Homo sapiens: one gene and its partners. The protein of the gene in region 3 purifies or fractionates together with the protein of the main gene of each other region. This does not show direct contact. Each region holds a gene or a part of one and is shown on either strand. Other genes may lie near its edges.

Region 1 (3,750 bases), on a different chromosome or scaffold from region 3:
TTCTGGATATTCTTCTAACTCATCGTGAGTCTTCAATAAATATTAAATAAACATGAGGAAGGTCCTGAGAAGGTCCTTTTACTGACCCTTGTCTCAAGAAAAGCAAATAGCCGATCGGTAAAAAGCAGCAGGTAGGAAGAGGGGATTTTATTTCCGTCAGTTGCCCTTATCCAGGTTTTGGGCTTAGTGCTGCTCCTCCACACTCATATAGTCCTGGCTGGCTTTTCCACGCATAGGTTAGGAAGCAACTGCTCTGGGGAGGGGGAAGGGGGGAAGAGGGGGAGGGAAAGAGGTCACGGGAAGCCTCCCTTCCTCCCACTGGCCTACCATTGAAGGCCTGTCAGGAGAAAGGAGAGAAGTGGGAGAGGGAGAGGGTGTGGCAGGGGTGGTCTGTGTGGCAAGAGGTAGAGAGAAAATAGTGGATCAGAGCAGGAGGGGGAGGAGCAGGGAAATGAAGCTCCTGTCCTAGGCACTGAAGTGTGGAGTGGGGCTGTGGCTAGAAAGGGGAGAGAAGATGCCTTTCTGGCCTTGCATGAGTCGTGGCAGAAAGGAGGAATCGCGAAGAGGAGCCGGCCATACCCAGCACACACCCCGAAGCCAAGCTGCTCATTACTAGAAAGGCTTATTCCCCCACAAGAAGTTAGTGCGGGCCAGCTAAGTGCCTACTATGTGTGCAGTATAGAAAGAAGTGCCCTGGAGAACCAGGTCGCGGGAGGCGGAGCCAGTCAACAGGGCTTCACCGAGGGGGCGAATTCTGTACACGGTTGTGAAGGAGGGTGGCTGTGCACGCGTGCAGGCTCCGAGTGCAGAAGACGAGGCAGGCCAGGGAGGAGGCGGAAGGAGGCGGAGCCTGAGCCGGAGGAGGGAGGAGGAGGGAGGAGGAGGAGGGAGAGCCGAAGCCGCGGAGGGTGGGAGGTGTGAATGGTGGACGGGTGAGGGGAGTGCCAGAGGCAGAAAAGGGAAGGAGGCGAGGAGGAGTAGTCGTGGCCCGAGGGCGTGTGGTGGGGCGAGAGCTGAACTGGACGGGAGGAGGGAGGCAGTGGCGGTGGCAGCGGGGAGGGGGAGGAGAGAGGGAGGGGAAGAAGGAGGAAGCGAGCGCGGCTGCTGCAGGGGGAGGAAGACGGGGAGGAGGAGCCGTGCGCCGCGGCGGCGGCCGCCAGGGGAACCGAGCGCCCGGCGCGGAGAGCGCGGGAGCGGAGCAGTAGCCCGATCCGGGGCCGCGGGCCGAGCTGCCGGTGAGTGAAGCCCCGAGGGGCGCGGCGGCCGGTCCCCGGGGCTGGGCGGGAGGCGCGGGAGGTTGCGGCGCCGGGGAGGAGGGAGGGGGGCCGGCTTTAGTCCAGGGGCCGGCTTTAGTCCAGCCCCCGGCTGGCCCGGCCTCCCGCCTTCCCTCTGGCTTCCTCCCTCCGCTGCCTGCGCGAGGGGGGCAGGTCCCGGGCGGGCCGCGGGCTGGGGGTGGTGCTGCCCGGAGGGCGGGCGTCTAGGGCCGGAGGGTGGAGCTGGGGGTTCGGGGGTGTACCCGGGGGCGGGAGGCTGGACAAGGACGGCTCTAAATTGGCTGGAGGGGCCCGTCGGCGGCGAAGTTGCTAGCTGGGGGCAGAGACGGCCACGCGGTTGCAGGAGTAAGAGATCCCTCTGTGGCGAGTGCGTGAGACGAGGAGTCCGGCGTCCCTGCCATCCCCGTCGCCCTCCCCGCCTGCTCGGCCCCGCTAGCTCCTCTCCTTGCCTCCGCGTGTCCCCTAGCTCTGACCCCTTTTGGCTCCCGGTTCGCTGCCGCAGCACTGCCGGGTCTCCTTGGCCCCCGCCCTGACCCTTTCGGCCTCCGGCTTCCCCTGACCCCTGCTTGCTTCGCCACTGCCCCGTTCCCGTTTTCTTCCCTCGCTAGTTACCCCTCCCGCTTCCTAATTCCCGGTGCAATTGCCTCTTTGAGACCTCTTTTTTTTTTTTTTCCTCTCCTTCCTTTTAGATTGGCCAACGGCTCCTTTCAACCCTGCCTCGTTGGTGGCCACTGGAGAAGCGCGGGGGGCTCCCCCAGACAGCCGTGGGGACAAGTTAGAGCCAGCACTTTACCCCGGGCCTTGCGTGTAGCTTCCCCTCCCCTACTCTCGGTGCCCTGGTGTCTGGAGGGGGGTTGTGGGGGTGTGCCCGCCTTACATGGTCCACCACCCGGGCAACCCTCTGGGCTTGTGTTCCATCTCACTCTTGCTTCCTGTACTGTGGTCAAGGGGAACCACTGCATCATGTCCCGGTATAGCTACCAGAGTCTCCTGGACTGGCTCTATGGGGGCGTGGACCCCAGTTTTGCAGGCAATGGGGGCCCCGACTGTGCTGCCTTCCTCTCTTGGCAGCAGCGGCTGCTGGAAAGTGTGGTGGTCCTGACCCTGGCTCTGTTGGAGATCCTGGTGGCCCTGCGGCACATCCTGAGGCAGACGAAGGAGGACGGTAGGGGTAGCCCTGGCAGCCAGCCAGAGCAGGTGACCCAGCGGCCAGAGGAAGGCAAGGAGAGCCTGAGCAAGAATCTGCTCTTAGTAGCCCTGTGCCTGACCTTCGGGGTGGAGGTGGGCTTTAAGTTCGCCACCAAGACCGTCATCTACCTGCTCAACCCCTGTCACCTGGTCACCATGATGCATGTGAGTCTGTTGACTTTTTCCTGGGCATCCTAAGTGATAAGAGTCATTTATGTGCTCAGGACACTCCATAGTGTACAGCACCTCATCCCGGCGGGCAGGGGGACCTTTAAAAATGATTTTCCAACGAGTGGCTGCCTTTGTGCCGATTTCAGGTTTGGCTTTCTTTCACCTTTGCACAGTGCGTCAGCCCCACAGTGGAGGTGAGGAACCTTGTGCCTGAACCCTAGGAACGACTGGCACTCACCCTGGCTGCCCCTCCCTTCCAGCCCAGCCCAACCCTGCCGTGCCCTGGGCTTTCACAAGCAGGAATTCCAGCCCCAGCCAGGTGCCCTTTCTGAATCACATCAGTGGACCATGACCCAGCTCCCTTGCCTTCTGTGGTAGTTAATTTCCCAGGGGCCTGGTGACACTCTTTCCTGGAGGTGGTCGCATAAACTTTCTCATCTACACTGTGGTACTTTGGGGAAATACTTTTACAGGTTTCTCTTAATGACTCTTTCATTTGGGAGTGTATGCTCTTAGAGTGAGGTCTGCCTTTGCATTTTGAGGCATTGGAGCAGCACCAAGCTCCTACTAAATGAGTTCTGAAGCAGGTCCCCAGGCTGACATGTGTACTTTGGGCTGGTGATCACTATGGTGAGAGGGTATTTCTTTTTTTGCAAACCTCTCCATCCTATTACTGTCATTCTGTCTCCTATGGTCATAGTCCAAGGGTGCTTAGGAAGCTGATTTCTTTACCTCATCGACTTCCACCCATTAGCGGTGCTAAGGAAAACAAATGGGATTGAAAAGGCAAGTTGCCAGATACATAAAAATAATCTGGGTGAGGACCAAGAGTGAGACTGTCTGTATTCAGCCTGTGTGGAGAGATGTTCTAAAGCTATAAAATCATGGAGGAGGAGGAAGAGGAGACTGGGAGAGCAATCAGTCTTTTTTAGATTTCAGGCTGTGGAAAACCGGGTGTGTTTTATTCAGGGGCAGTTTTGAAACCTGTCATTAGCATCTTTACTGCCTTTATGTTTGTAGAAGGTTATTCTTTGGAGACTTGTGACAGCCTAGCTTGGGGCAGGAGGTTGAGATTATTATCTCCATTTTACAGGCCTGGAGGGGTTTAGGAATGGCA
Region 2 (3,650 bases), on a different chromosome or scaffold from region 3:
CTTCGTATCTTTTTTCATATGGTCCCTGAGCCTGGAATACCTTCCATTCCTCTTTCATTTCTAGATGCCCAACATAAGGTCCAGCTTAAATCTAATCTCCACAAAGCCTCTCCTAGTTACTCTTGGCCATTTTGCACTTCCTCTGAACTCCTTTTGCATTTATTGCTTATACTACTGCCTACACTGCACATGGTAGTTATGTATTAGTTATGTATTACCACAAGGCTTTTCAGTGGAAATGCTTTAGTGGTCACCTTGGGAGTTGGGATTCCGGGAATTCTGGGGCAGGACTCTGGACATCCCCAAACCCTGTTTTGGCCAGAGCAACTCCACTTTAGTGTTATATATGGGCAGTTTCCAGTAGTGTTTATTAGAAGAGATGGTTTAATTGCACCCCCTGTCCCCGTTCCCCCAAACAGTTGCAAAAATACTGGATCTATCTTGTGTGATAGTTGACTCATAAGTGTTAACTTATAATGGCCAAGGGCCAGGAATTAATACTACTTCAGACTTGTATTACCACTCCTAGGCAACTGGTGCAGTTTTGAGCACAAAGTGGACATGTAGGAAATGATTTTACAATTGTATTGCTCCCATGTGGGAAATAGTAGATAGTAAATAGCATTACCTGAGAAATTTACCTTAATGAAGAACTCAGAATAAGGTTTCTGGGTTGACCTTTGAGAAATAAATCTAAGTTGATAGTTTCTGCCCCACCCCCCCCTTTGGATATAAACCTAACACTATTTAAAGATGTCTAGTTTACATGCACATGTTTAAGAGAAATCTTATTATTGGCATACCCTATTCTACCAAAGTTTTGACAAACTTAAATATCATATTCATGCATTTGTGTAAGCATTAAGGTTGTTATTCAACTCACAGAATGATATGCAGAGTACCAGTACACCTAGAAACCTAGAAAAAAATAAATTCAGAAGTTGATGTGCTCAAAGACATTTACGTCAATAATGATTACAAATGGAAAATGCCAGCCTTTCAGACCAGTTATTTCAGCTTTCTGTAATTAATTGTGTAAACTAATAAAGACCTGAGTATTTAAATCAATTGTGCTATCAACTTGTTAATATTCTTTTGTTTTTGTTTTTTGTTTTTTGTTTTTATTTTTCCTGCTCTCTGCTTGGTTCATTGTCATCACCTACAGGCGTACTTTATTGTCGGCTTCCAAAGATTACTAACTTTTATCTGTATCACTAAGATTGAACTGCCTTGGCTGTACTGCTATTCTTACTGCTGCTTCTATTATTGCCTTCTTCAGCACAATAAGGCTTTCAAAAGCCAAAGAATAACAAGAAATAAGCACCATTTTAGAAGCCTTTCCACTATGAAACTTAAGCTAAATGTGCTCACCATTATTTTGCTGCCTGTCCACTTGTTAATAACAATATACAGTGCCCTTATATTTATTCCATGGTATTTTCTTACCAATGCCAAGAAGAAAAACGCTATGGCAAAGAGAATAAAAGCTAAGCCCACTTCAGACAAACCTGGAAGTCCATATCGCTCTGTCACACACTTCGACTCACTAGCTGTAATAGACATCCCTGGAGCAGATACTCTGGATAAATTATTTGACCATGCTGTATCCAAGTTTGGGAAGAAGGACAGCCTTGGGACCAGGGAAATCCTAAGTGAAGAAAATGAAATGCAGCCAAATGGAAAAGTTTTTAAGAAGGTAAAGTATTTTGGTGCTTTTCATTTATGTTTTAAAGAGGAAGACACATTTGTTTTATCATAAATCGAGTGCGTTTTAAGTATGCTGGCATTCTATTATAGTGCTGTGTAAAACTACTCAGAAGCCGCTCATAGCTTCTGTATGTTCATTTAAGAGCATTTTTAGAGTTTTATGCTTTGGATAGTATTTTAATTGCTTGTTTGAATATACTAATATTAGAGAATGTATCACTTTAACAGTTAATTCTTGGGAATTATAAATGGATGAACTATCTTGAAGTGAATCGCAGAGTGAATAACTTTGGTAGTGGACTCACTGCACTGGGACTAAAACCAAAGAACACCATTGCCATCTTCTGTGAGACCAGGGCCGAATGGATGATTGCAGCACAGACCTGCTTTAAGTACAACTTTCCTCGTAAGTGCCTTGTGTTTTTGGAGGGGGGAGAGGAGGGTCTTTGCTTGCATGTGAGAATTGTTTTGAGATGCTCTTGTTTTCACAGTAGGTGTTGTTTAGCCATTTTACACATTAATTATGTCCATAATACGGCATGTAATATTGTGGCTAAAAGATATCCGATGACTCCTGTTAAGTATGGTAACTTGTAAGAACTAATATGGGAATTGGCAGCTTTAAGGGATGTGATTTACACTTTTATTTTCCAATTGGAAATGAATTGTAACTGAAAGAGTTGGAGTTTGGGGGTATTTTGGGGGGGTGATATACAAAGAGTAATGATTAAAAGAACAAAAAACCATTTCTCAGGATAATTCAAATTCATTGCTTCACTTTGAGACCTCTTATTTGACTTATTCTATTTTACGTGTGAAATATGCATGTGACAGCTGGAATTGGCATTAGATATGTTAGAAAGTAAAATTGAGTATATTTCTAATACTCAAGCATTTGTTGTTGCCATTGTTTAAGAAATAAACAATGTATTGTCACATACTAAGTACTCTGTTGTTTGTTGAATGAAATATAACACTGTAAGTTAGGATTATAGAGCTTAAATTTCAAACAAAAAATAGATAATATGAAAATGATCCCCTATGTACCCATTACCCACTTTCAACGATGAACAGCTTGTGAAAGTGGCTATTTTTAACCACATTGTTTCTGGTTACCAATCTAGAGCTGAATTTTCAGTTCTTTCTAAGTTTAGCAGATGTCCTTTGATTCTAACTGATCTTGGTTTATGTTATCTCTGGTGGCTCCTAAGGAGTAGATCTCCTTGATCTCTCTAATTAAGGTGTGGAGGTCACCAATCACATTGGACATTGGACTCACTAAAACAGCTTCTTAGAAGGAGTAAGAACATTATCTGTGGCTGATCTTATGACTTAAGATCCTCAAGATTTTCAAGGACTTATCCATTCTTTGGAGGCTATGGCCAATGAAAGTGTGTATCAAGAAGAAGCCCTAGCTGGGCCAGTCTGACCTGAATTAAGAGTTCAGCCAGTACCTATTGGCCTTGAGCATCTAAATTGACAGATTTTTGATCAGCTGTGGCAGTGCGAGTGTTTCTGGGTTTCTTCAGGTTTAGGAAGTGAGAGTTCTGGGAATTTGTAAGGAAAACTTTGGGCTCCCAGGGAGTTTGAAGCAAGGTTGAAGGATGGTAACAGAGACTATGAAATCAAATTAAAATATACAATGTCTTTGTGTCTCTAAGTGTAACTATTATTAAAGACTGACTTCAATAATATCCATTTCTAATAGATGTTTATTACTTAATATTTGTGTTTATTTTTATTATGTAGTTGTGACTTTATATGCCACACTTGGCAAAGAAGCAGTAGTTCATGGGCTAAATGAATCTGAGGCTTCCTATCTGATTACCAGTGTTGAACTTCTGGAAAGTAAACTTAAGGTAAATATGAAATTTTCTTTTAATTCATGGTTGCGTTGTCTGGCAGGACAGAAAAATATTCATTCAGTAAGTGAATTTTTGTTG
Region 3 (3,650 bases):
GCAGAGCAGAAGGTGCAAGTGAACAAAAACATGTTAGATTCTAGGACGTGGAAATTTCTAAATTACATATTCACAGATTTCTCAGCTTCCTGAGATTCTAATGTGCTCCCCTGGGAACATTCTCATCTGCTTCCACCCTTAGTTGGGATCCCCTTTCATTGGTGGGAGTGGGTTAATATTCTTCAAGTTGATTTGGATGGATGGGGAGAAGGGGAGAAGTGGAAAACCTCTAAGGTAACTCCAGAATCTTTTAGCTAATGTAACTTGTGCCAGAAAATGTTTTTTAAGATTCTCTACCCTAAGGGAATGGAGGCGACTTCTCCTTGGTTCTCCTCAAAGCTGCTCTGCTCAGAAGAACCTCAGTAGACCCAGATAGCAGTTAAGGGTGTGAAAGAGGAAACTCAGTTTTGCGCTAACGTGTCTGGTCCATGTTTAATACCCAAGTGGGAGCTATCTGGGCATACTGCAGCTTTGCAAGATTGTTTCCTACTCACTGCATGGCAACATGAGTGTGGAGGCCAAACAGAGCATTTCTGGGTTAAAGAGAGAATCCTAGCAGCTGTGGAGAGCCTAGGCCAATAGAAAAGAAAACATAACCCAAAGAACTGGTATGGAAAGAGCCAGAAGATATCTCCACATGAAGGGCCCTGATCCTTCCCCACCCCCTGGTCCTCAAGGTGATCCTGCAAGGAGAAAGTTTCAGAAGAGAGAGAGCCCACTGCAGGAGATTTGGGTTCAATTCCTTTCATGATTTTAACAAAAACGACCATAAAGATTTATGCAATAGTGACACAGATATGATTAGGTGATTCAGTAGCCTGCAATTTTTTGTATAATTTCTTACACAGGAAACCAAAAAAAAAAAAAAACAAAAAAAAAAAGGAAGAAAGAAAAACTCTTTATATTTTTCAGTACATTCCAAACATAGTCATTAATCTAGTCTTAGGTGACACCTAAATCAAATTGTTTACATTTGTAAAAATACAATAAATCCATTTTAAAAGAAAGGCATTTTATTTACCTTTAGTTGAGAAAAAAGTACAGATACTCTTTAGTGAGGAAAAAAATGATGTTTAAAATCCCTTTTCTGTGTTCTTTTTGAAAGCAATTATTATTTTTTGGTTTCTAGACCTGCATTACTTCTATAAACGAAAGCATGCTCCTTTCAAGTACTATACAAAGAAATTAGGAACTTTTTCTGAATAGGAGGGGCCTGGAGCCCTTCTTATCATTTGTTTTGTGAAGGGAGAGGTATCTAAAACAGAGGTAGCAGAAGCAAGGGGTGAATGTCGAAAACAGCATTAAGAAAATACTTTCAAAATTGGAACTCCAGGTATTAGGGACAGAGCATGGATATACTACCTCCTTGCTTATTCAATTCAATTGAAAATAGCATTATTTCTAAATATCAATAACAACAATGTATGTGGAAGTTTTATTACAATTTAAAGGTAACTTTAGTTATTTGACACACAAACTTACATGAATTACATGATTCACAGAATTCTTATCATCAGTGCCAACAAACAAATTAATAAGGACTTTTTTCCCATATTTAGAATTCAGTTGTGCAATAGCTTTTTCAGCTGTCCAAGAAGCACCTAAAGCAATAAAAGATAAAATATATCTTTAGAAGCTTTAGTTCACTAATGATATTATAACATAGATTTTACATGGAAATTTCTTTTTTAGTAGGAAAATTGCCTTACCATATTTTTGCTCCCAGTTTTCTGTTGCTACTGGCCACCCATATATGTCTGGTAACAGTTTGAGTAGAGGTTCTCCACCTCTGCTATCAATAGCAGCTTTTGGAAACAACAAACATAAATTCAATTAGAAATCTAGGCATAGTTTGGCACCAATATATATATATATATACTCCTAATGAAATCAAATGAAGAGCACTTACATTCATTTATACAAGACCTGTACAATGCTTTTGCTTTCTGCACTGCTACTATATCTTCAGTTTTGGGTTCTTGAAGGACATCTGAAATAGGACATTTAATAAAATGCATCAACATAATTGCTCATTTGCACTATGCAAACATAATTGCTCATTTGCAGTAATTAACATTTGCAAAGTGGGTTCAGTTAAAAAAAAACCTTGCTTTTCTGGAGGTACATTCATTTCCTCCCCCCAGTTCCAAAACATTATAGGAAAAACCAAACCCCTTACCAGATTATCATTCCTAGCACAGAACTGGGAGTCAGTTTAATCAGCCAATTTAGATGAAAGTCCTTTTGACTAGATTATCTTTTTTTTTTTTTTATGAACAGTGATGCATACGGCTCTGCCATAGGTAACAGTTACTTTTCTTGAAATTGAGATTAAAAAAAAACAATAACACAGAGGAATTTGGAATTTAGTATGAATAGTCTTTTTGATGGCTGGAAAATAATTATCTTTGTGTGACTGTACCGTTCATGCTCCAAATGAATGAATTGAATTGTCCTACTTGTTTCAATGTTAAAAAGTAGCAAAAATTGTTCTTCTACAAAATAACTTCTAGAAGAGGGGAGAACAGAGAACAAAGGATAGGAGGGACTTGGCTAGATTTCTTAACTTCTCAGGGAGACAGTCTTAGCCAGGTTAGAATATACCTGTGCTGGGAAGGCAAATCTTAGTAACATCTTACAGTAACTTTAACACAGGGTTTGGGTAGGGAGACTACAGAAGTAGGTTTCTGTGCCAATCATTTAATTTTTTTTCTTCTGTAAAATGGCATAAAACTACCATCTTGGCTGGGCATAGTGGCTCACACCTGTAATCCCAGCACTTTGGGAGGCCAAGGCTGGTGGATCACCTGAGGTCAGTTCAAGACCAGCTTGGCCAACATGGTGAAACCCCGTCCCTACTAAAAATACAAAAATTAGCTGGGTGTAATGGCAGGTGCCTACAATCCCAGCTACTTGGGAGGCTGAGGCAGGAGAATTGCTTAAATCTGGGAGGCAGAAGTTGCAGTGAGCCGAGATAGCACCATTGCACTCCAGCCTGGGTGACAAGAGCAAAACTCCATCTCAAAAAACAAACAAACAAACAAACAAAAAACCAAACCTGCCATCTCTAGAGATGATACCGCTTTATTATTTGCATACCTACAAATGAAAGCAGGAATGCTAAGAGATGTCAACACATTAATTTCAGTGTCTGCCACTATCAGAGTGACTTGGTGGTGGTACACAAATCCTGGAAGGATTATTAACTTTTTAATCTTCTGTGACATTCCTTGTAATGGCTAACAATTGTATATTTAAAAAATGAACATATTAAGAGAGAAATCTTTGATGCACAGACACAATCTCTACTAACCTTTCAAAACGACTTCTAGTTCATCTCTTAAAATGTCAAAGTTGCCGTAACGGGAGCTGGTCTCGGGAATGACATTACGTTTCAACCAGCCTCCGCAAGCATATTTGAAAAAGTCTGTACAAGGCTCAGTGGTGGCATCCATGTTTTGGATCAGTCGAGCAGCTGCAAGAGCAGAGAAAACACTAGATAAAATGATGGGTTTATTTCTTAAGAGGCTTAAAAGGAGAAAAAGGCTTATTGCTCCCTTTTGATTGCATCAATTTGTCGGATGCTCCGTTTTCTTTTTTATATAAGTCAATTCAGGGGGATGAGGAATACTATCTGTGTATAGTTCTCT

Evidence for each region.
Region 1: the proteins of MME (region 3) and TMEM164 purify together in Homo sapiens (affinity purification with mass spectrometry; one large-scale study listed by BioGRID and IntAct). This does not show direct contact.
Region 2: the proteins of MME (region 3) and ACSL4 purify together in Homo sapiens (affinity purification with mass spectrometry; 2 studies listed by BioGRID and IntAct, with this or other methods). This does not show direct contact.

The regions. Positions count from the first base shown.
Region 1 is NC_000023.11:110,001,538-110,005,287, forward strand, and holds the start of TMEM164 (transmembrane protein 164), read left to right. Parts: upstream 1-1,576; 5' UTR 1,577-1,641; intron 1,642-1,963; 5' UTR 1,964-2,237; coding exon 2,238-2,627; intron 2,628-3,750.
Region 2 is NC_000023.11:109,681,182-109,684,831, reverse strand, and holds part of ACSL4 (long-chain-fatty-acid--CoA ligase 4), read left to right. Parts: intron 1-1,165; exon of another isoform or gene 1,166-1,345; coding exon of another isoform or gene 1,346-1,468; coding exon 1,469-1,696; intron 1,697-1,935; coding exon 1,936-2,113; intron 2,114-3,456; coding exon 3,457-3,566; intron 3,567-3,650. UniProt on the Homo sapiens protein: Catalyzes the conversion of long-chain fatty acids to their active form acyl-CoA for both synthesis of cellular lipids, and degradation via beta-oxidation. Preferentially activates arachidonate and eicosapentaenoate as substrates.
Region 3 is NC_000003.12:155,114,819-155,118,468, reverse strand, and holds part of MME (neprilysin), read right to left. Parts: intron 3,476-3,650; coding exon 3,314-3,475; intron 1,991-3,313; coding exon 1,910-1,990; intron 1,806-1,909; coding exon 1,710-1,805; intron 1,602-1,709; coding exon 1,483-1,601; intron 1-1,482. UniProt on the Homo sapiens protein: Thermolysin-like specificity, but is almost confined on acting on polypeptides of up to 30 amino acids. Biologically important in the destruction of opioid peptides such as Met- and Leu-enkephalins by cleavage of a Gly-Phe bond.